Linked DNA regions of Homo sapiens. The protein of the gene in region 2 purifies or fractionates together with the protein of the main gene of each other region. This does not show direct contact. Each region holds a gene or a part of one and is shown on either strand. Other genes may lie near its edges.

The links. Proteins that work in one complex are often made in the same cells at the same time.
Region 1: the proteins of IQCB1 (region 2) and PSMB5 purify together in Homo sapiens (affinity purification with mass spectrometry; one large-scale study listed by BioGRID and IntAct). This does not show direct contact.
Region 3: the proteins of IQCB1 (region 2) and EXOC1 purify together in Homo sapiens (affinity purification with mass spectrometry; 4 studies listed by BioGRID and IntAct, with this or other methods). This does not show direct contact.
Region 4: the proteins of IQCB1 (region 2) and BOLA2 purify together in Homo sapiens (affinity purification with mass spectrometry, with the first as the bait; one large-scale study listed by BioGRID). This does not show direct contact.

What each region holds. Positions count from the first base shown.
Region 1 is NC_000014.9:23,031,481-23,037,363, forward strand, and holds the start of PSMB5 (proteasome subunit beta type-5), read right to left. Parts: upstream 3,421-5,883; 5' UTR 3,402-3,420; coding exon 3,204-3,401; intron 2,195-3,203; coding exon 1,888-2,194; intron 1-1,887. UniProt on the Homo sapiens protein: Component of the 20S core proteasome complex involved in the proteolytic degradation of most intracellular proteins. This complex plays numerous essential roles within the cell by associating with different regulatory particles.
Region 2 is NC_000003.12:121,792,420-121,797,694, forward strand, and holds part of IQCB1 (IQ calmodulin-binding motif-containing protein 1), read right to left. Parts: intron 4,809-5,275; coding exon 4,699-4,808; intron 3,148-4,698; coding exon 3,038-3,147; intron 1-3,037. UniProt on the Homo sapiens protein: Involved in ciliogenesis. The function in an early step in cilia formation depends on its association with CEP290/NPHP6.
Region 3 is NC_000004.12:55,869,493-55,874,767, forward strand, and holds part of EXOC1 (exocyst complex component 1), read left to right. Parts: intron 1-1,185; coding exon 1,186-1,413; intron 1,414-1,608; coding exon 1,609-1,741; intron 1,742-2,356; coding exon 2,357-2,466; intron 2,467-3,262; coding exon of another isoform or gene 3,263-3,316; intron 3,317-5,275.
Region 4 is NC_000016.10:29,452,473-29,456,824, forward strand, and holds BOLA2 (bolA-like protein 2), read right to left. Parts: upstream 1,782-4,352; coding exon 1,719-1,781; exon of another isoform or gene 1,642-1,718; coding exon 1,544-1,641; intron 1,261-1,543; coding exon 1,161-1,260; 3' UTR 1,121-1,160; downstream 1-1,120. Other genes in the region: BOLA2-SMG1P6 protein, read right to left, coding at 1,544-1,603, 1,719-1,979; SLX1B (structure-specific endonuclease subunit SLX1), read left to right, coding at 2,271-2,458, 2,926-2,977, 3,072-3,413. UniProt on the Homo sapiens protein: Acts as a cytosolic iron-sulfur (Fe-S) cluster assembly factor that facilitates [2Fe-2S] cluster insertion into a subset of cytosolic proteins. Acts together with the monothiol glutaredoxin GLRX3.

The DNA.
Region 1 (5,883 bases), on a different chromosome or scaffold from region 2:
TAATTGTTCTATAAGATAACTAGGTATTTAGTAAGCAGGTAAATGAATGAAGCAAAATCAAAAGGAGGAAAGAATAATTATTTTTAAGCATATGGAAGGGAAAATTAGAAGGTGACTAGCTATACTCCAACTTTACTAAACGGGCAATTCAAAACTGGCTGATGAGGAAATGACATTAAATACAAAGTTGAACTGTCTGGCAAGTTTCTTAAATGCTGGAAAGGAAAAACAGGCTAAGGAACTTATTTTCAGAGATGATAGAACCGGACCTAGCATGATTGTAAGGGTGATTATAACCAGCAAAGAAATAAAAGAAATGAGCCCAGGACTAGGCGCAATGGCTCACTCCTGTAATCTCAACACTTTGGCAGGCTGAGGTGGGCAGATCACCTGAGGTCAGGAGTTCAAGACCAGCCTGGCCAACATGGTGAAACCCTGTCTCTACTAAAAATACAAAAATTAGACGCGCATGGTGGCATATGCCTGTAGTCTCAGCTACATGGAAGGTTGAGGCAGGAGAATCACTTGAACCTGGGAGGCAGAGATTGCAGTGAGCTGAGATCCCGCCGCTGCACTCCAGTCGGGGCGACAGAGCGAGACTCCATCCCCACCCCCTCAAAAAAGAGAGGAGCCCAAAAGGCCCCTTCTAGGCCAAAGACTCTCTAAAGAAAAAAAGAGAAGAGGCCGGGTGCAGCGGCTCACGCCTTTAATCCTGGCACTTTGGGAGGCTGAGGCGGGTGAATCACCTGAGGTCAGGATTTCGAGACCAGCCTGGCCAACATGGTGAAACCCCATCTCTACTAAAAATATAAAATTAGCTGGGCATGCTGGTGGGCGCTTGTAATCCCAGGTACTTGGGAGACTGCGGCAGGAGAATCACTTGAACCCAGGAGGCAGAGGTTGTAGTGAGCTGAAACAATGCCATTACACGCCAGACTGGACGATCGGAGTGAAACTTTGCATCTCAAAAAAAGAAAAAAAGAAAAAAACAGAAGAGAAATGACTAACTTTTGAGGGACAACCATATATTAGAGTCCAATACAGTAGCCACAAGCCACACATGGTCAATGAACACTTGAAATAGCACTACTGCCACATGTGGGATTCAACGAATTCTTTTTTTTGTTTTTTTTTTTGAGACAGAGTCTCGCTCTGTTGCCCAGGCTGGAGTGCAGTGGCACCATCTCGACTCACTGCAAGCTCCGCCTCCTGGGTTCACACTATTCTCCTGCCTCAGCCTCCTGAGTAGCTGGGACTACAGGCGCCTGCCACCACGCCTGGCTAATTTTTTGTATTTTTGGTAGAGACGGGGTTTCACCTTGTTAGCCAGGATGGTCTCGATCTCCTGACCTCGTGATCCACTGTCTCAGCCTCCCAAAGTGCTGGGATTACAGGAGTGAGCCACCACGCCCGGCCTTCAACGAATTCTTAAATTCTTTTTTTTGAGACAGAGTCTCACTCTGTCGCCCAGGCTGGAGTGCAGTGGCGCGATCTCTGCTCACTGCAACATCCACCTCCTGGGTTCAAGCAATTCTCATGCCTCAGCCTCCTGAGCAGCTGGTATTACAGGCGCCCGCCACCACGCCGGGCTAATTTTTGTATTTTTAGTAGAGATGGGGTTTCGCCATGTTGGCCAGGCTGGTCTTGAATTCCTGAACCTGGGGGCGGAGGCTGCAGTGAGCTGAGATCATGCCACTGCACTCCAGCCTGAGCGACAGAATGAGACACAGTCTAAAAAAACAGGAAAAAAAAAAAGAGAGAAGGAAGGGCTAAGGACCTAATTACACTTCTTCAGCATTGACACCAAGCCCTTTAATTCATCTGTCCATCCAACCCCTCCTCACTGTAGTGTCAGCCCAAGGATCATGTGGTTGCAGCTTAACTCACCAGGGCCTCTCTTATCCCAGCCACAGATCATGGTGCCCATGGACAGCCCCATGCCTTTGTACTGATACACCATGTTGGCAAGCAGTTTGGAGGCAGCTGCTACAGAGATGCGTTCCTTATTTCGAAGCTCATAGATTCGACATTGCCGAGCCAACAGCCGTTCCCAGAAGCTGCAATCCGCTGCGCCCCCAGCCATGGTGCCTAGCAGGTATGGGTTGATCTCTATCACCTTCTTCACCGTCTGGGAGGCAATGTAAGCACCCGCTGTAGCCCTGGAGTCAGCTGCAACTATGACTCCATGGCGGAACTGTTAAGATCAGAGGAAAACACAAAACAGGCCACATAAGACCACAAAAACACTCCTACATACTTCTTTTTGCATCAATCCAAACCCAGCACATCTCTTTCTCCGTCCTTTTATACTTCACAGTATACTTCTATACTTCACCATATATTAATGTCACCCGAGCTTCACATCAATCCCTTGACATGGATATAACCCATATTAAATTCATTTTATAGGATGGGCGTGGTGGCTCACTCCTGTAACCCAGGCATTTTGGGAGACCAAGGCGGGAGGACCGCTTGAGGCCAGGTGCTGGAGACCAGCCTGGGCAACACAGGGAGATCCATCTCTACAAAAAGTAAAAAAACTTAGCCTGTCGTGGTGGTGTGTGCCTATAGTGTCAGCTACTCTGGAGGCTGAGGCGCTGGAGCCACTGCACTCCAGCCTGAGCGACAGCGAAAAGCCCTGTTTCAAAAAAAAAAAAAAAACAAATCATTTTATAGATGAGGAAACAGGTTCAATGAAATCAAATGATTTCTCAATCTAGAGCTAGTTATTGCAGAGCTGGGCAAGGAACCCCAAATGTCTGATTCTTAGTACAATGCTTACCCTCACCACGCTTCCCCTTCATGCCAGTTTCAGTTACCCCTGCCTTGAGGGGCCGCCCAGTTTCCAAAACTTTGGTAAACGTTTACAATAGCCTTCCCTCGGCCAAGATTCATTGTTGTTGCGGCCTTTCCCAGCTAGAAGATCCTGAACAGCAGCAACCTGGGGTCGCCTAGGAATCAACCCAAGAGGCCTCACCTTCCTCCCCCGACTTACCCCCGGCCCCACCGCCACCCTTTCCAACCAGAGCAAAGACAGGGGCCTCCTGGGCCAATGAGACAGCAAAACTGCTGCGGTCCGAACGAGAGGACCCAGCCTCCGCCTGGGTTGGTGGCCAAGGCCACCGCAAACTCCGGTCAGGCTGGGAGGCCAGGCAAGTCGCGGGCGTTCAGTACTCAGCCTGGCAAGGGGGCTGGCTCCACACCTTGAAGGCCAGGGTGGTTGTTCCATGAAGCATTTCGATTCCTGGCTCTTCTGGGACACCCCAGCCTGGCGCGGCCAGGCTCAGACCATCACTGAGACTCCCTGGACCTAGATCCAGCAGATCTGCACGACCCCCAAGTCCGAAAAACCCGCGCTGGTTCACCGGTAGCGGTCTCTCCAACACGCTGGCAAGCGCCATGTCTAGTGTGGGCAGAAAGAACTAATTCTGAGAACGCCTAGCAAAGATAGGCCGGGCAACGCCTCGCCGTCACAGCTTCACTTCCTATTAAATCTATTCCGGAATGGAGCCATTTTGACTGCTGGCAAGCACGCCTCCAAAAAGAAGAGCCAGATGCGAAAGACCATTTTCACTGAAGGGGGTCGGGGAAATAGATGGCTTCACTAACCTTAAATTCTAAAAGGACGTACCTGCCATCTTGGCTTTGGTCATGCAAGTAGTCCTGGATCAGAATAACCTCAAAATCACAGGAAGTGACTGAAAACGTCCATGTTGCGTAAGGGAAGTGAGGTCGGCCATCTTTGAGAAGGGCGTGACTGGTTGAAAATCGGTTCTGAACCCTTAGCGGTGAGTCCTCCCACTCCAGCCTGGTGTCCAAGCAACAGGTTACATCGCTGCTGCTTCAGCACCTTGTTAACGCGCCTGAGGTTGCCATCTTGTTTAAGGGCACCTTCTAAAATTGGGTAAAATAATGATCCATTCTGAGGCCATTTCCCTATATTAGTTAAACCACAGCAATTAGTGGTAAAACAACGCAACAAAATAAAAGTGCTATACCTCTTGTTGTCAGTCGCCATACAGCAACCCTTCTTTAACAGTAACCGGTTATTAATATCCAATATTCGTTCTCTTGACTCCTACCTTCTGGTGGAAATTCGAATAAGTAATGAATTGCCTAAAAGGCAGATGGAAGAAGAAAAAGCAAAGGGTCCAGTTAATCCACAAACTAGATTCTCAGTTCAGACCTGAATAAGTGTCAGTAGTAATTTACCATCTCAGAGACGGGAGGACGGTTGAGACTGCATAAATATGTACCAAGAGATTCTCTAACTTCAACTTGCTAAGATGATGCCTTTTATTCAGGAACATACTATATTTCATTGCCTCTTCCTCCCTCCACCCACCTTCATTTTTCAAATCTTTTGGGAACTATAACAAACCGGGAAGTGTGCATATGTATGAAATGTTGCCTCCTGCTTTATGGTTCTATGAAGTCAGTCTCTGGCCTTCCTTGTTGGATTCTAGCAGCAACATCTATCAACACCGAAATTCCACTTTCCTCTGATGCCCAGTTCGGCCCCATCTTTCCCCCAGCAGACTCTGCATATGCTGTATTGTTTTTGTTTGTTTGTTTGTTTGTTTTTTGAGACCAAGTCTTGCTGTGTCCCCCAGGCTGGAACACAGTGGCACGATCTCTGCTCACTGCAACCTCTGCTTCCCAGGTTCAAGCGATTCTCCTGCCTCAGCCTCCCGAGTAGCTGGGATTACAGGCGCCTGCCTCCACAACAGGCTAATTTGTGTGTGTGTGTGTGTGTGTGTGTGTGTGTGTGTGTGTGTGTGTGTTTAGTAGAGACGGGGTTTCACCGTGTTAGCCAGGATGGTCTTGATCTCCTGACCTCGTGATCCACCCACCTCGGCCTCCCAAAGTGCTGGGATTACAGGCATGAGCCACCGTGCCCGGCCTCACGCCTGGCTAATTTTTGTATTTTTAGTAGAGATGGGGTTTCACCATATTGGCCACGCTGGTCTCAAACTCTTGACCTCAGGTGATCCGCTTGTTAGCCAGGATGGTCTTGATCTCCTGACCTCGTGATCCACCCACCTCGGCCTCCCAAAGTGCTGGGATTACAGGCATGAGCCACCGTGCCCGGCCTCACGCCTGGCTAATTTTTGTATTTTTAGTAGAGATGGGGTTTCACCATATTGGCCACGCTGGTCTCAAACTCTTGACCTCAGGTGATCCGCTTGCCCCGGCCTCCCAAAGTGCTGGGATTACAGGTGTGAACCACTGCGCCTGGCCTATGCTGTATTTTTAATGCTGAAATTGGCAACCCTTTCCAAGCCCAATCATCAGAATAGAATTAAACAGGAGATCTTTGTGTTTCACACTTGGATGATGTGGAAAATGCGGAGTGCGTCTGTTTACTGAGCATATATTATTTTGCAGTCACCCCTGCAGTGCAACTAGTCTTTCTGCCTCCTTCCAGTGGTTTTTCACTCTGCCACTGATAGCATGTGTACCTCTCTTAAGGCCCTTTTACATTTTACCTGGTTAGAAATTACATTTATCTCCTACCGGATTGTGAGCTTTTAAATACAAGTACTTACTATTCATTTCTGTACCCACTGTATGCTTAATACATATTTGCCAAATGAACACCTGAAAGAATGACAGCAGTGGTCTTCTAGTCAAAAAGGCTTGAAGTCCTTGCTTATCTTTTACAGCTTTTTTCTTTCCTTCATATCCAGTTAGTTGCATGGTCCTGTTGATTATTTCCACTTCAGTGTTTCTCACATTCTTTTTCATTACAACTGATACCACCTTTGGCTTCTTATGTCCTCATTCTGGAATTGCTGAAATATTCTCCTTATTTTATTTTATTTTTTTGAGATGGAGTCTCGCTCTGTCGCCCAGGCTGGAGTGCAGTGGCGCAATATTGGC
Region 2 (5,275 bases):
GAGGCCGAGGCGGGTGGATCACGAGGTCAGGAGATCGAGACCATCCTGGCTAACACGGTGAAACCCCGTCTCTACTAAAAAATAACAAAAAAATTAGCCGGGCGTGATGGCGGGCGCCTGTAGTCCCAGCTACTCGGGAGGCTGAGGCAGGAGAATGGTGTGAACCCGGGAGGCGGAGCTTGCAGTGAGCCGAGATTGCGCCACTGCACTCCCGCCTGGGCCACAGAGCAAGACTCCGTCTCAAAAAAAAAAAAAAAAAAAAAAGTGAGATTTGGTGATTTAAATAGGGACTAAATTGTAAACAGGTGTGCTTATTGGATTCATATGTTTTACTTTCATATCTGAAAACATTTATTAGGAACTGAAGTGATTTTGAATGTAATTCCCCCATTTATTATTAAATAACATCGAGTTATTTTGTTCAGAGTTTCTCTAATCACTCAAAAATCAAACAATTATTCTTCCAACTGGTTTCTTTGTAAGAATTAGTAGGCACTGGACCACCTGGCATCTGTACTACACTTCTGAAGATGAAATGACTGATCAGATGTCATATTCTGAAATAAGTAAATTCCATGATTTACATTTAATCAATCTGAATTTTTACCATTAAAGTGGGAGTTGACCAAATTTTCTGCTGCCAAGACACTGTGCCTCAGAGGGAGAGAGAGAAAAAAGATGCTATCTGCATTTAAGAAGCTCAGTTTCAAGATGAAATCAACAAATGTAATTAAAACACTTAAAAATCAGCACTATGATAGAGGTAGGTAAATTGTGAGGTTTCTCTAAGATAACTAGAGCAGCTGTTAGCCGCTTCAGAAAACCTTGCTGAATAAGAGTACTTAAGAGACAAAGTTTCTGAATACGAGAAATGACTAAATAAAAAAGAAACCACTATGAAAGTGCATTAGCAAGGGCGTGACTATAAAAGAATGCCTCTTGCTGAATCTAAAGAACACTAATCAACCTGGACCCATAAGTGTGACCAGTGGGCAGTCTCTCTCCCAAAACCATGGGAAGGGGAAATTACTGAGATAAGTCCTGAGCACAAAAAGACAGAAATAACCTTTGAAAAAAAACCAAGCTACAAAGGAAGCAAGAGACATTTGCATGAACTGTTACAACTAATAGAAGAGCGAAGGTGCTGAACTGGAGAAAACTGAAAATTAAAAAATTAAATAGAATCCAACAGGTTAGAACCGCATTTCAGTATATTCTGGAACCTCAAATGCAAAAATACTGGAAAGGCAACAAACACAAAATGTGAGACTTAAATAATTTTTGCTTCACAGCTTATCTTTTTAATGGAAGTATTTATAACTCTTCTGGTTACATAAAGAAAGCAATGGAATTTCTATTTTAAAATAATGGAATATTAGATTCCATAGATACACTTCTAAGTAGAAAAAAATCTGTAATCCTGGGCTACTTTTAAATAGAGATTTTAATATTGAAAGAGAGAGTATATGAGCAAATTTGGGAACTCTTGTGGGACTAAACATTAATGCTCTGAATCCATGTATAAGGGTACCCTTAAATTTAAGATGACAGGTAACTAAGGATGATAGCAGGTGGAATCCATAAGTAATACCTACTCTATCTGAATTCACCACAGAGGCAATACCAAGAGCACCTCAGATGCTTTGGGTAGAAAAATATACACTGTGACTCAAAAAGTACTCAATATTTCCCAAATTTATCTAACCACAGAAATGCTTTTAAAAAAAAAACAGCTTGTAAGATAGGCAATAAACTTTGAGTAATAATAGATGGATAATACTTGCTTCTCATTAGTACTACCTATTTAATGCATCTATTTGTTTACCTAGATTTGTAAATTTTCAAGGACAGAAAATGTGCCATATGCATTTTTCCTTCTATCATTTTTTAAGTGCCAGATAATATGCTAAAAACTTTGTATTATCTCAAATTTTACATTATCTTGATCATACAAGTGTATAAACTATTATTCTCATTTTATAGATTGGAAGTTTGAGGCTGAGAGAGGTGGGGGATTGTCCAAGTTCACTCAACCAGTAAGCTGCTCAAGTGAGATACAAACTCGAATCTGTTAAATGCCTAGTACATATATCATATACTAGGCATTTGATATATATTTAAAAATTAATTCTTTTCTTTGCTACCAACAATATTCATGCCCAATAATATTTAAAATCCATCTTTAATTCTTCCCTGAAGAAAACGTTCATCAATTAATAGGATACCCACTAAGAGACACAGTTAGCTAGAGTGATTTCAATGTCTTCAACTCTGTGACTACATAGTATTTTGAACCCCAGAGCTATTTTTAAATGTTTTTATAACTGAGAAATGCATCTGCAGTTATTAAAAGAATAGTTTCAGTTTTCTTTAAAGAATTAACTTCTGTAAAATGCCAGTTTCATTTTAGCAAACTAAAGCTTGGCTTTAAGTTAGGCTGCATGAAAAAGTCACCTCTGAAACAGATCTTCTTTACCATAAATTACCTAGAAGCTAAGTTATTTTTTCTTGTTCTGTGACCTTGGAGGATCTGGATTGGTTAAGTCATTGCAGAAAGTGGGCTATGTCTTCAGTATTTCCTTTTCAGTCTACTTGAAATAAATGCCGAACTATATCATAATTCAATGAAGATATCCATCCATGCCATATTTATTCAGGAAAATCAGGTTAACAGACTTAAACTCTTATACGCATACATGTTATTGTTATAATTATACACACGAAATTATGATAACTGTTGGTTTAGAGGGTTTAATAATATAACTATCATTGGCTCCCTTTGTAGGCTTGGCCCCTCCCCAAATATCTTATTAAGTGGATAGGATTGCATATTTGACACATCAGATTCCTGTCTTACATCCTTTGCTTTGAAAGTGCATCTGGTTACTGGAGTGTTGGTACCCAGAAACGTATGGAAAAAAAATGAAAAGATAACAAGAAACATACTAGGAAATTAAAAAAAAATCACCTAAATTTCAATTCAACTGTACTCTAGTAAGATTCTATGATCATCAATCCCCTCACCAAATTTTTTTACCTGAAACTCCTCTGCAAAGCAATCACAGCAGATGGAAGCTTCTTTAATCTCTTTCTTGTCTGAAAACCCTTCCAATAGGCTTGAATCAAGCATGCTGCTTGATGTAGTTTCTGAAATGCCGAAAATAATTTAGAGATATCTCTAGGAAGGTCTTTAAAAAAAAAAAAAAGTTTACCTCTTAAAGTATCAGGTTAGGGCAAATATTAATCTCTAGCTCTAACAAGATGGGTAAGAATATTAAACCTTACCTCCCAAAGGAGGTATGTTAGGCTTGGTAAGGCAATTTCTAGAACATACTCAAGATATAGTCTAGTTAGCTCCAAATTCTCCCAGAATAATCTCACTTCCATTTCCTTTTCAAAGATTTCATAGTCCGCCTGACCTTTCATAATCTTTTTTGAGCTAACATGTTAATGTTTTTACTTAATAGGCAATCAACCTAGTTAGGTTCAAACTATAAGCTCTGTTGACCATTGTGGATGGTTGCTCGAATCTCTGTTTAGTTCTGTAAGCTTTTGATATGCTATTCTCCTGATAGACCATTGGGCTTAAAAGGTCAGTGAGCTGTCTGAGTTCTTGACTGAATTCTGTCCCAGTCTCCTGTTTACTTAATAGACTTCTGAGTCCTCAAATGGAATGGCAAAGGGTACAACTATTAATAATAAAATATAGTTTTATGATTTTGTTACCTAATCAATATGAATTTGAGCATATGCATAGTTTTGAGATTAATCTAAACTCACGATGGTTCATATATACAGAAAAAAGGAATTCCCTTCTTCTGCACTCTTCCTTCCAGCCTCCCCCAACCCATTCTCCTGCCTTACTGGACTTATTTTCATGGTTTCTGCTTGTATTTTTAAATTTATTGTCTTTTTGGTTTTGGATTTTGGATATACAATGTCCCCTTTTCCTTTTAAATTAAAAAATATCTTTAGTCATTTTAGATGTTTTCCATATTTAAGTCTTTATCTGGAAATCAGAAAGCAATATGCCTCTTCCTGTTGAATGGGCTATTTAGAGCCATCATTTTGAGTATGCTAGAGGAAGTATGATGAAATAATCAATAACTTGCTGCCTCAAATTTCTAAATAATTTTATTAATACCATTTCTTACACAAAGGAAAAGGCATTATTGTTGTATCTCAAAGAACAAGAAGGGTAGCCATAGGTAACCATAAATACAGTTTGCTACAATTAGAGATTTTTTTTGGAAAAACAGTTTTAAAAGTTTAAATAGCTTATAGATAAAAGAAGATAAACATCAGAGATGGGGCTTTCATGAGAAATGATGAATGAAACTGATGTGGCAGTATTTATAAACAGATGTAAATGGGAGATTGAAATTATGTTTTCCAGCAGATTGAATGGCGGAGAGATACAATTTTGTAACATTATATTTTAAAGATGGGGTTTTGCTATTTTGACCAGGCTGGGGTGCAGTGGCTACTCATGGGTGTGATCATAGGGCAGTCTCCAATTCCTGGACTCAAGCAATCCTCCTGCCTCAACCTCCTGAGTAAAAAATTTAAAGATATTTCTGTTTTGGGGGTATTTTGCTTGAAATCTTAAGAGAAAGAAAGTGAGGAACATTTAAGGAAAACTAAGGTTTAATATAGTCAGCAAATATCATGCAATTTTTTTTTTTTGTAACTTAATACCTGCTCTTCTACTTCCTGATAGACCATTGGGCTTAAAAGGCCAACAAGCTGTCTAAGTTCTTGACTGAATTCAGTCCCAGTTTCCTGTTTACTTAGTAGACGTCTGAGTCCTGAAATGGAATAGCAAAAGGTACAACTATTATTATAATAATAAAATATGATTTTGTTATCTAATCAGTATTAATTTGAAGCTAAAAAGTCTGGCTTAAAAACAAATGAAAACAAGATTAATCATATGATTTTTCTTTTTCCTTTTCTCAGAGAATTCCAGGTTGAAATCTTTAAGATATTCCTCCCTCCTGAGAATTCTTACGTGCTCAATTGTGGTATCTGATAAAAAAAAAAAAATCTGTCTAGACAATCTCTTTAATAAAAAAAAAAAAAAAGGAGTGGGATGGAATCACTGTGGTAAATCAAAAAGTAGAGATAAATTTTTTTTATTTGAACAAAAATACTTAAATGGAGACATTTTAAAGATAAATTACTACAGACACATATTCAGTAAATGCTTGCCCTGTGGAAGCACTTATGCAGATTATTATTAGTCATTATTAGTTGAAAAAGATTATTAAATATA
Region 3 (5,275 bases), on a different chromosome or scaffold from region 2:
AGGAACATTTTAAAGACTTAAATTTTAGTGTTGTATACATGAAAGGTACAGAAGTTATGGGGTCTGACTCAGGCCCAGAGAGATTATATGAATAGTCCAGGCTTACAAGTTTACAGAGTTCACTGAAAGCAAAGCCTAGAAATGATTTTAAGATGTTAAGGAAGAAATCCTGGGCAGATTCAAACCCCAGCTCTGTTACTTAAGAGATGTCAGTGGCTTCTGAACCCTTCTGACTCTTAAAGTCGTATTGCACTTACATTTTATTTACTGTGGATAGTATGTAAATAACGTGTGAAACCACAGCGTCAGCTGTACAATGATATCCTTTAAATTTCTGGTCCAGGTTTTTCATCGTACCATGTTACTTGCCTTCTTAATATGGCTTAGTGATTTATATTTTTTGTTCTAATTAATATGGTATATATGTTCCAAGTCAGCATATTGCTTTGCAGTTTAATTTTGGATTTGGCAGTTTCCTTATTTCAGGGAATTCAGAATCAATAGTCAGAATCATTTAGAAAATAGTGATAAGGGGATGGTGGTTTGTTACTGCTTTGCCTGGGGAAGAAAAAAAAAACAGTTGAAAGAGAAAAGAAAAAAGATGATAGAAGGAGCTATCGGCCGTATGCTCTTCTACATCCTGTTACTAGTTCCCATCATACTACAGTTATAAATTAGTTTCATATATCCTTCAGAGTCTGGTATACCACTGCTGCTTTCTCAACTAAGATATCACATAGGTGATTATGCTTTTATTTAGGGTTTCACATAGGTGTTAAGAAAATTTCTAGCTGGTAGAATTGGAGGAAATGTTAGAGATAACATGGCCTAATGCCTCCTAAATGTATAGAAATGAGAATGTGCCATTACCAGTGATACTTTCTGGCACCTTACTTGTGCATTCTGGAACCTTACTTGTGCAGTCTGTGGAAATATAAAATCCTAAGGCATGGTCCCTAACATTGATTTAGAGGCAAGTGTACCTGCATGAAATACTGTGTAAAACATGGAAGAACATAAAGTGATAAACTGAAGTAGATGTGTAGGTATATATCAATTTTTGTTATGCTACTTTCAAGGAAATTTAGCAACATTTCACCTTTATTCTTTTACACATCTAAATAACAAGTATGTTTTTTGTTTGTTTGTTTGTTTGTTTGTTTGTTTTGGTCTTTAACTTTGTAGGCTAACATCCAGTCAATCATGGCATCTGAAAAACAAGTCAACATCCTGATGAAATTGCTAGATGAGGCTCTAAAGGAGGTAGATCAGATTGAATTGAAACTGAGCAGTTATGAGGAAATGCTCCAAAGTGTAAAAGAACAAATGGATCAGATCTCTGAAAGCAACCACCTAATTCATCTTAGTAACACTAATAATGTAAAACTCCTATCTGAGATAGAGTTCCTTGTGGTAAGTATGATCATAAATTACCAACAAAAAAAAACTAGTGATGATATATAAAACCCATTTGTAAACATTTTTTAATTTCCTTGTGAGAACAGGATTTAAAATAATTCCAAAGACCTAATGATAGGACTGAATAGCATCTTGCCTGTAAATTTCCCAAAATTACACATGCAAATGGTGTGTTTGCATATATTCTAGAACCACATGGACTTGGCCAAAGGTCATATAAAGGCCCTTCAGGAAGGAGATCTTGCTTCTTCCAGAGGCATTGAGGCCTGCACCAATGCTGCTGATGCCCTTCTGCAGTGCATGAATGTAGCTCTTCGACCAGGTATGTTCATTAGAAATGACAAAAATGTGACCAAGAATGTGAGACTAAGCCTGTAACTTGTTATAAAGGTTTTGACAAGAAATACATGAGACAAGTGGTTTAAGGGTTACATTATTAGCTATTCAAGTTTCACTGATTTCCCAACTTATTTCTATTGATACTAGGAACTTTTTTACTTCAGTTCCTCCTTCTAATTGTCCTCAATGACTATAGTCAACACCATGATCTTTATTTAGTACTATCCACAGAACCCAGCAGAAAGTAGGTGCTTTGGTTAGACGAGAGCAATTATTTCAAAACTTGAGTGTCCGTCAGAATCCCTAGAGGTCTTGTTAAAAACATAGATTGCCTGGCCCCAGTCCCAGATTCAGCAGATCTGGGCTGAGATTTTAGAATCCACATTTCTAACAGTTCCCAGGCGATGGTGAGGCAAGACCACACTTTGAGAACTACTGTGAAATCCCATTTTTCTCCTGCTTAACTTTTATCATGTAAATGAATACACCCATAAAACTTTTGGGTTCTTCAAAACGTTAGATACGTTTAATGTTCCATTAAACATCAAGGAAATCTTTTTACCCATTAAACTGGTCACAAAATGTCGTTCTGTGTCAGGCCATGACTTGCTTCTGGCAGTCAAACAGCAACAGCAGCGATTCAGTGATTTGCGAGAGCTTTTTGCCCGGAGACTGGCCAGTCACCTCAACAATGTTTTTGTTCAACAGGTAATTTTATTTTATTATTAAAACGAGCATGTTCCTATAGCTTATTTATGTATTAACCTTACATTTCCACAAAAATGTTAATATGTTTAATTGGGGTTGCAGTCAATTCCTTCACATATTTGATTTTAAGATTTTGAAATAGGAGCCTCTTTGCTCATAGATGTACTTTGGGCCTCAGCTGCCTCTTTTGGTAGACAGTCTAGTTCCTTTCAGCTGATGCTCTCTGATTCTAGAAATCAAATAACTATGCATATGAATTGCATATACTACTTAGATATTTTTATTTATAAAGTAAGTCCAAACTTGTTAGATATTTACTATTGGACCTGTTTTATTTTTCAGTATTTTGAGGTGAGACTCAGGACTTGATTCAGTGTTTTAAATGTTTTGTAAGTTCTATGTACTTAGTACATAGTATAATTGTTAAGAAAATGACTAGCTCAACTGCAAATTTCAGTTGATCTAATCTTCATATAAATGCTTTACCTATATTTTTATATGGAAAAGGATGTTATAATTAAGAGTGTGGTAATAATATTGTTATTAATAATATTAAGAGTACCTTTGAGGGATTTGAATAAAAGCCATTTTAATATCTAATACAATAAATTAGGTTTCTTATTTTTTCATCTCTTTTAAAAGTCCCTTTTATTTTATTAGAGTTATAGAATGAAAAAAAATTGGGGGAATATCTCGTTCATCAAGAAATACTGCCTGAAAACAATGGATTTTTACTTTATTTTCACTTTGCAATATTCTAAAACAATTGTATTTACTATATTTTATTTCCAATTAGTTTACTCAGGCCCTCCTTCAACTCTATAACAGGTCCTACTTTCTTTCGGTTCCTGTGAGTACATCAAATTTGGCTCAAGCTTCTCTGATTCTGTTTTTTTTTTTCTATAAAGTTTGCTAAACTTAACAGCAGCCGAATCTTTACAGATTATAACTTACTGATTTAAGCTACCTGTTAACCACATTCGTAGCAGTTTTTAAATGTCCCATAGTAGAGACTATTTTGGCCAAAAAAGCATTTAATCTCATTCTGCTTGCTTTTCTTTCTGTCATTTTTTCACTCCATTTAGTAATAAATAGTAATATTACTCCTTCATTTAGTAATAGTAGTAATATTAATCCTTCATTTATTTAGTATTGCCAGGTGATTGAGGTACATACCAGACATTAACTTGGGATAAATGAGAGACCAATCCTGTCCTCTAGTAGTTCACAGTCTAGGGAAGCGAGACAAACAAATAATATACTCAAGAGGGATAAATGTTATGACAGCGAGACTGTGGGAGTGTAAAGGAAGACCACCTAACTAAAAGCACGGTAGGGGGGAATCAGAGAGATTCCCTTAACATTCCACTTGACTGAAAAGTGTCGAGAAAAAAGTAAGCTTAAATGTCACATAGGAAATACTAATTCATGTTTTTGTTAGGTACTTACTTCAATAACATCTATTTCTATACAATTCCTTAGTTTTTAAAAATGACACTGTTGACAATTATGTTATCCACATTTGTTAGATAGTATTGAAAATACCAGCCAGTAAACAATAGTCTTTTCTGTACCCTTAACTGTTTGTTGTAACATGCAGTTATTTATGATTTTGCTTCTTGCCTTGTAAACTAATGGCCTCGTTTAAAATGAATGCTTCCCATTTCTGAAAAGCTGATATGTGTTATTACATGTGAGTGATGCATGTTAAAAATCAGAACGCTGCGACAACCTGGGGTGTGCCAAAAACGGTGGAAGAAGATATCCCACACATAAGAAAGATTTTCTTAGTGTTGCATTCAGTGCATCAGGTCACCTAGCAAAATTGTTGAGAAACATGGGTATTTCTATTCCTGGTAGGGAGACAAGCTGGGAAAATTGATTAAAATAATATGGTACACCTCTTTGGCAATCACAGAATTTTCATTGTATGCTTATTATGTACTCACTGTCTACCATATATAAGAATAAGCAATAGTTCCTACCCTCAAGATGCTTGTAAGAAGGAATTAAAACTAATGTACTTACTCTTTGTAAGGAGTTAAGACTAATGTACATTAGCAATGTATGTAATAAATTGCTAATTGTAGAACTGTGGACTGTAAGTGCTAAAAAGGTTTAATCAAAAGTGAGTTTATTGAGAATTTAAGGAGTGAGATATGGAAGGAATTGCAGATAAGGTAGGACTTGAACGAGTCCATGCAATACAGTTTATAGCAAATGTATAGTTACAACATTTACAAATATTGTACTGAAGAATCCAGTGAAAATAATCTATTCACAATATAACAGTAATTTCAAAGCATTGATTCTCAGTCTTTTTAAAATTCACAAATTAGTAAAATTAAAAGAAATAAAATTCGGAGACTGACCAAATCACCAATTTTTTTATTTTACCAAATAAAGACCTTTAAAAAGAAATACTATTATCCACTTTCATTATCTTTTCATTTTAAAAATGACATTTTGGCACTAAAAGAATAAGAATTTCCTTTCCGATTTTAAAAATTAATACATTTACCCTTATGAAGGACTCACTTCTTTCATTGTACTTTTTCTTATTGCTATAGGCCAGGAAAAACATCTTGCATTTGGGAATGACTGATCCAGAGCATGCTATCTGTAATGCAACTTTCCTATTAATACTTCTGTGTTATCTATACTTAAGTGAAACTTGAAGTGTATTTTAATATAATAATCACTGTAATATAATATGAGAGTAATGTTACATAAAGAGTAGTTAGCTTCTTTTAGATCTTTCAGATCTTACACACTCAACTTCCCCTGAAATTATAGGCTCTTGCCCATA
Region 4 (4,352 bases), on a different chromosome or scaffold from region 2:
ATGGCTGAAACTTGCAATTTCTCACTCTCAACGAGCCCTGGCCCCAACTAGGTTATTTGGGCTCCCTCCCTAGGTCTCAGGGACCTCTGTTCAAAGTCCTAGCAATCTGGGCCAGGTACAATGGCTCACGCCTAAAATTCCAGCACTTTAGGAGACCAAGGCGGGCAGATCACTTGAGGCCAGGAGTTTGAGACTGGCCTGGCCAACATGGTGAAACCCTGTCTCTACTAAAAGTACAAAAATTAGCCGGGCATGGTGGTGCACCCCTGTAATCCCAGCTACTCAGGAGGCTGAAGCACAAGAATCTTTTGAACCTGGGAGGCAGAGGTTGCAATGAGCTGAGATGGCGCCACGGCACTCCAGCCTGGGCGACAGAGCAAGACCCTGTCTCAAACAACAAAAAACAAATAAAACAAACAAGGTCCTAGCAACCCTACTAACCTGTTATGAAGACTGATACAGGGGCATCACCTGCCCCAATTTTCTGACTCAGGTCAGCCTTATATTCCTACTCTAATCTCACCCCTATCCCCGTCCCACACCCACTATTCTTAAAACCTCCATGGTCCTCCGGGGGCAGCTGTAGACACATTAAGCCCAGGGCTATGGGGCCACTGGAACCTTCTCCAGTGGGTCTGAAAACATCAGCATTCCAGGAGTTGATGAGCCCCTACCTGGGCACCACTCCCTCTTGGGCCTGAGAAGGCCGGGGGGAACCTGCAAGGAATATGTGGAATTCTATATGGTGCCTCTGATACTGCGGTAATGTCAGGGAGAGGTTTGTTCAACTGGTCAGGGCCCTGAAACCCCGATCACTTTCTCATCTCTGCATCTTGAAGGCTAGCAGAGAGGAGGAACCCTGAGCTCTCTAGGAGGTGGGTAGGTGGTGGCAGTACAGACTCCTAGATGTCTAAACGGAGTTGCAGAGAGAAGGCTTTCTCGGTAGACCCTGGAAGGGACTTTTACGGTAGAACTTTCATTTTACAAGCAGGGATAGAGGCCTAGATGGGGACAGAGACGTGTCCAAGGTAAAACAATGGACGGAGGCAGGGCAGGGAGAGGCCAGGTCCTAGACTCGGCCTCAGCACCCCTCCCACACACACATCGACACAGAAGCTGGTCCAGATTTATAATTTAATGGCTGTGCAGATCCCAGTCCCTCATTTCTGTCGCTCACGTGCCCACTGGTCTGGGGTCAGGGTTTTCTGTTCAAAGGCATGGATGTGCGGGAGCTCTTCTGCTAGGCACGCGTTCACCAGCCTGGGGCGAGAGATGGGGTTAGGAAAAGGCCAGCGGTGATCGCACACCCCGAGGCTAGGGTGACCCAAGAGACTGGTGTCCCCAAGGTTGTAGTCCCCAGGCCGTGGGAACACGTACTTGGAGAGAGGGTCTACATCGAAATACTCGAAGCAGGGGTCACGAAGGCGGGATCCTCAAGGTCCCTGAGCCACGCCAGGGGGAGTGCGGGAGTCAGGTTGCAGGGGTAGGGGGAGTGGCTGGGGTTGTGGTACAGGAGCTAGGCAAGGTGCTCCCAGGGCCTTACCTGTGTCTCTGAAGCAGCGGTTTCCCCTCGAACTTGGCCGACACCACCAGGACTCGGAAGCTACAGGAGCAACGGTTGAGGGTCGTGTCCTCCACCTCCTACCGAGCGGAAGAATATGAATGGTGCCGAACCCGCCCCCCGAGCTCTTTTCCCCTTGTCCGGCGGCTCAACTCACCACATGCTCCGCCTCCAGGTCCCGCTGCAGCTTCTCGCGGAGGTATTCGGCGCTGAGTTCCATGGCGGCAGTCCAGCTGGAACGGCAGCCCAGCAGGGACACAACCCCAGCTCGGGCGCCGGCCACGCTACCTTGCTGCCTTACAGGAGCCACTTCCGCTGGAAAACTCACTTCCGCCCTTACTAAGGCGTACGTCAACGCAGTACTTCCGCCCTCAAGCAGCCGGGCTTTCCAGCGGTCCAGGCTTTTCGCGCTTGCCATGTGTCAGCCAATCAGAGCCTGAGGAAGGTGGGACTCGGGCGGAGCCGATGCTGAATGGTACGCGCTCGCCGACTGGACAGCAGTCTGGCTTCCGCGGTCGGACTTCTACACCCGCCTCCAGACAGGAGAGGGGCACGTACCGGCGCTACGGCTTCCTGCAGGCTGCCTCCGGATAGTCCCCGAGAGCTTGTTCCGAAGCAAGCACCCTGCAGCCCTAGCGATCCAGCCCTCCCCTGGACCCTAGGTCACGGCAATCAACCCCCTGCTGTGGTTCCCGAACCCCAAGGCCCGATGGGTCCCGCGGGGGTCGCGGCGAGGCCAGGGCGCTTTTTCGGCGTCTACCTGCTCTACTGCCTGAACCCCCGGTACCGGGGCCGCGTCTACGTGGGGTTCACTGTCAACACTGCTCGTCGGGTCCAGCAGCACAATGGGGGCCGCAAAAAAGGCGGGGCCTGGCGGACCAGCGGGCGAGGGCCCTGGTGAGAGGGGGAGGCCTTCTGTGCCGGGAGGAAGGCGTCCCAGAGGAGGCGGACCCCGCGGGGCACAGGCCTGTTGAGAAGGACCGGCCAGGACTGTGACAGAGGCGGGGCGTCTGTGGTGGGGACGGGGCCTGTCGCAGGGGAGGAGCGTGACGGGGAGGCGGTGCCCGGGGCATCTCCGCGGCGGAACTCAGGGAAGGAGCTAGCTGGGGCGGGGGTGATGATCCAGGCTGGGTTCCAGCATAGGGCTCTTGGTGGGCACGCTGGGGTCGGGTGGAATGCAGGAGAGAGAGGAGGTGGGACAGGTGGGTACCTGGGCTGGAGGCAGGGCCTGAGGTGGGCAGGTGCAGAGGGCTGCACTTCTCGGCTGAAGCCGGGAATGAGGACCCCGCTCTCGGGTGGGATTGGAGGGGACCCGCGGCTGAGGCGCTGGGCTGCGACAGGGACATCACGGTTCTCCTCCTCAGGGAGATGGTGCTCGTCGTGCACGGCTTCCCGTCCTCCGTGGCCGCCCTTCGGGTAAGGAAGGAGACCGGGCAGCGGCGGCCGGGTGAGGGCTTGGGTTCCGCCCCTCGCTCCGAGCCGCCCTGATGCCCCTGTACGCCGCCCGCAGTTTGAGTGGGCTTGGCAGCACCCGCACGCCTCGCGCCGCCTGGCGCACGTGGGGCCTCGCCTGCGAGGAGAGACAGCCTTCGCTTTCCACCTGCGCGTGCTGGCGCACATGCTGCGCGCACCGCCCTGGGCTCGCCTCCCGCTCACGCTGCGCTGGGTGCGCCCAGACCTCCGCCAGGACCTCTGCCTCCCGCCGCCGCCGCACGTGCCTCTGGCCTTCGGGCCTCCACCGCCCCAGGCCCCGGCCCCAAGGCGCCGCGCAGGTCCCTTTGATGACGCGGAGCCTGAGCCAGACCAGGGGGATCCAGGGGCCTGCTGCTCCCTGTGCGCCCAGACCATCCAGGTGAGGTCCCCCCGAGGAATGGATGGCTCTAGAGTCCAGACGACTTCGGATCCAGCTCTTTCTTGAGGGAAACCCACTGACACGCTTTGGCCACCCTATCCCCATCTCTAAGATGCTGATGCTATAGGACTTACGGCCATTCCTGAGCAAAGCAGGCCCTGCTCAGGGCCTTCACCATTTCCCCTTCAAAGAAAAGGTTCTTCCCTAGGCCATCAGTACTCCGCTGCACTCCAGTGTGGTCGACAGAGCATGACCCTCTTTTTTTTTTTTTTTTTTTTGAGATGGAGTCTAGCTCTGTCGCCCAGGCTAGAGTGCAGTGGCGCGATCTCTGCTCACTGCAAGCTCCGCCTCCTGGGTTCACGCCATTCTCCTGCCTCAGCCTCCCGAGTAGCTGGGACTACAGGCGCCCGCCACCACGCCTGGTTAATTTTTTGTATTTTTAGTAGAGACGGGGTTTCACCGTGTTAGCCAGGATGGTCTCGATGTCCTAGCCTCGTGATCCGCCCGCCTCAGCCTCCCAAAGTGCTGGGATTACAGGCATGAGCCACCGCGCCCGGCCCTTTTTTTTTTTTTAGACAGAGTCTTGCTCTGTTGCGGAGGCTGGAGTGCAGTGATCTCAGCTCACTGGAAGCTCCGCCTCCTGGGTTCAAGCGATTCTCCTATCTCAACCTCCCAAGTGTGCCACCACACCTGCCGAATGTTTGTGTTTTTAGTAGGGATGGGGTTCGCCATGTTGGGCAGGCTGGTCTCAAACTCCTGACCTCAAGTGATCTGCCCGCCTCGGCCTCCCAGAGTGCTGGGATTATAGGCGTGAGCCACCATGCCTGGACATGACCCTGTCTCTAAAACAATGTAATGAACTGCAGCTCATTCTTGTGTGCACTTTTCTGCACCCCCTTTCCCTTAACACTTACTATTGTCTGGCATGCTACGTGTTTT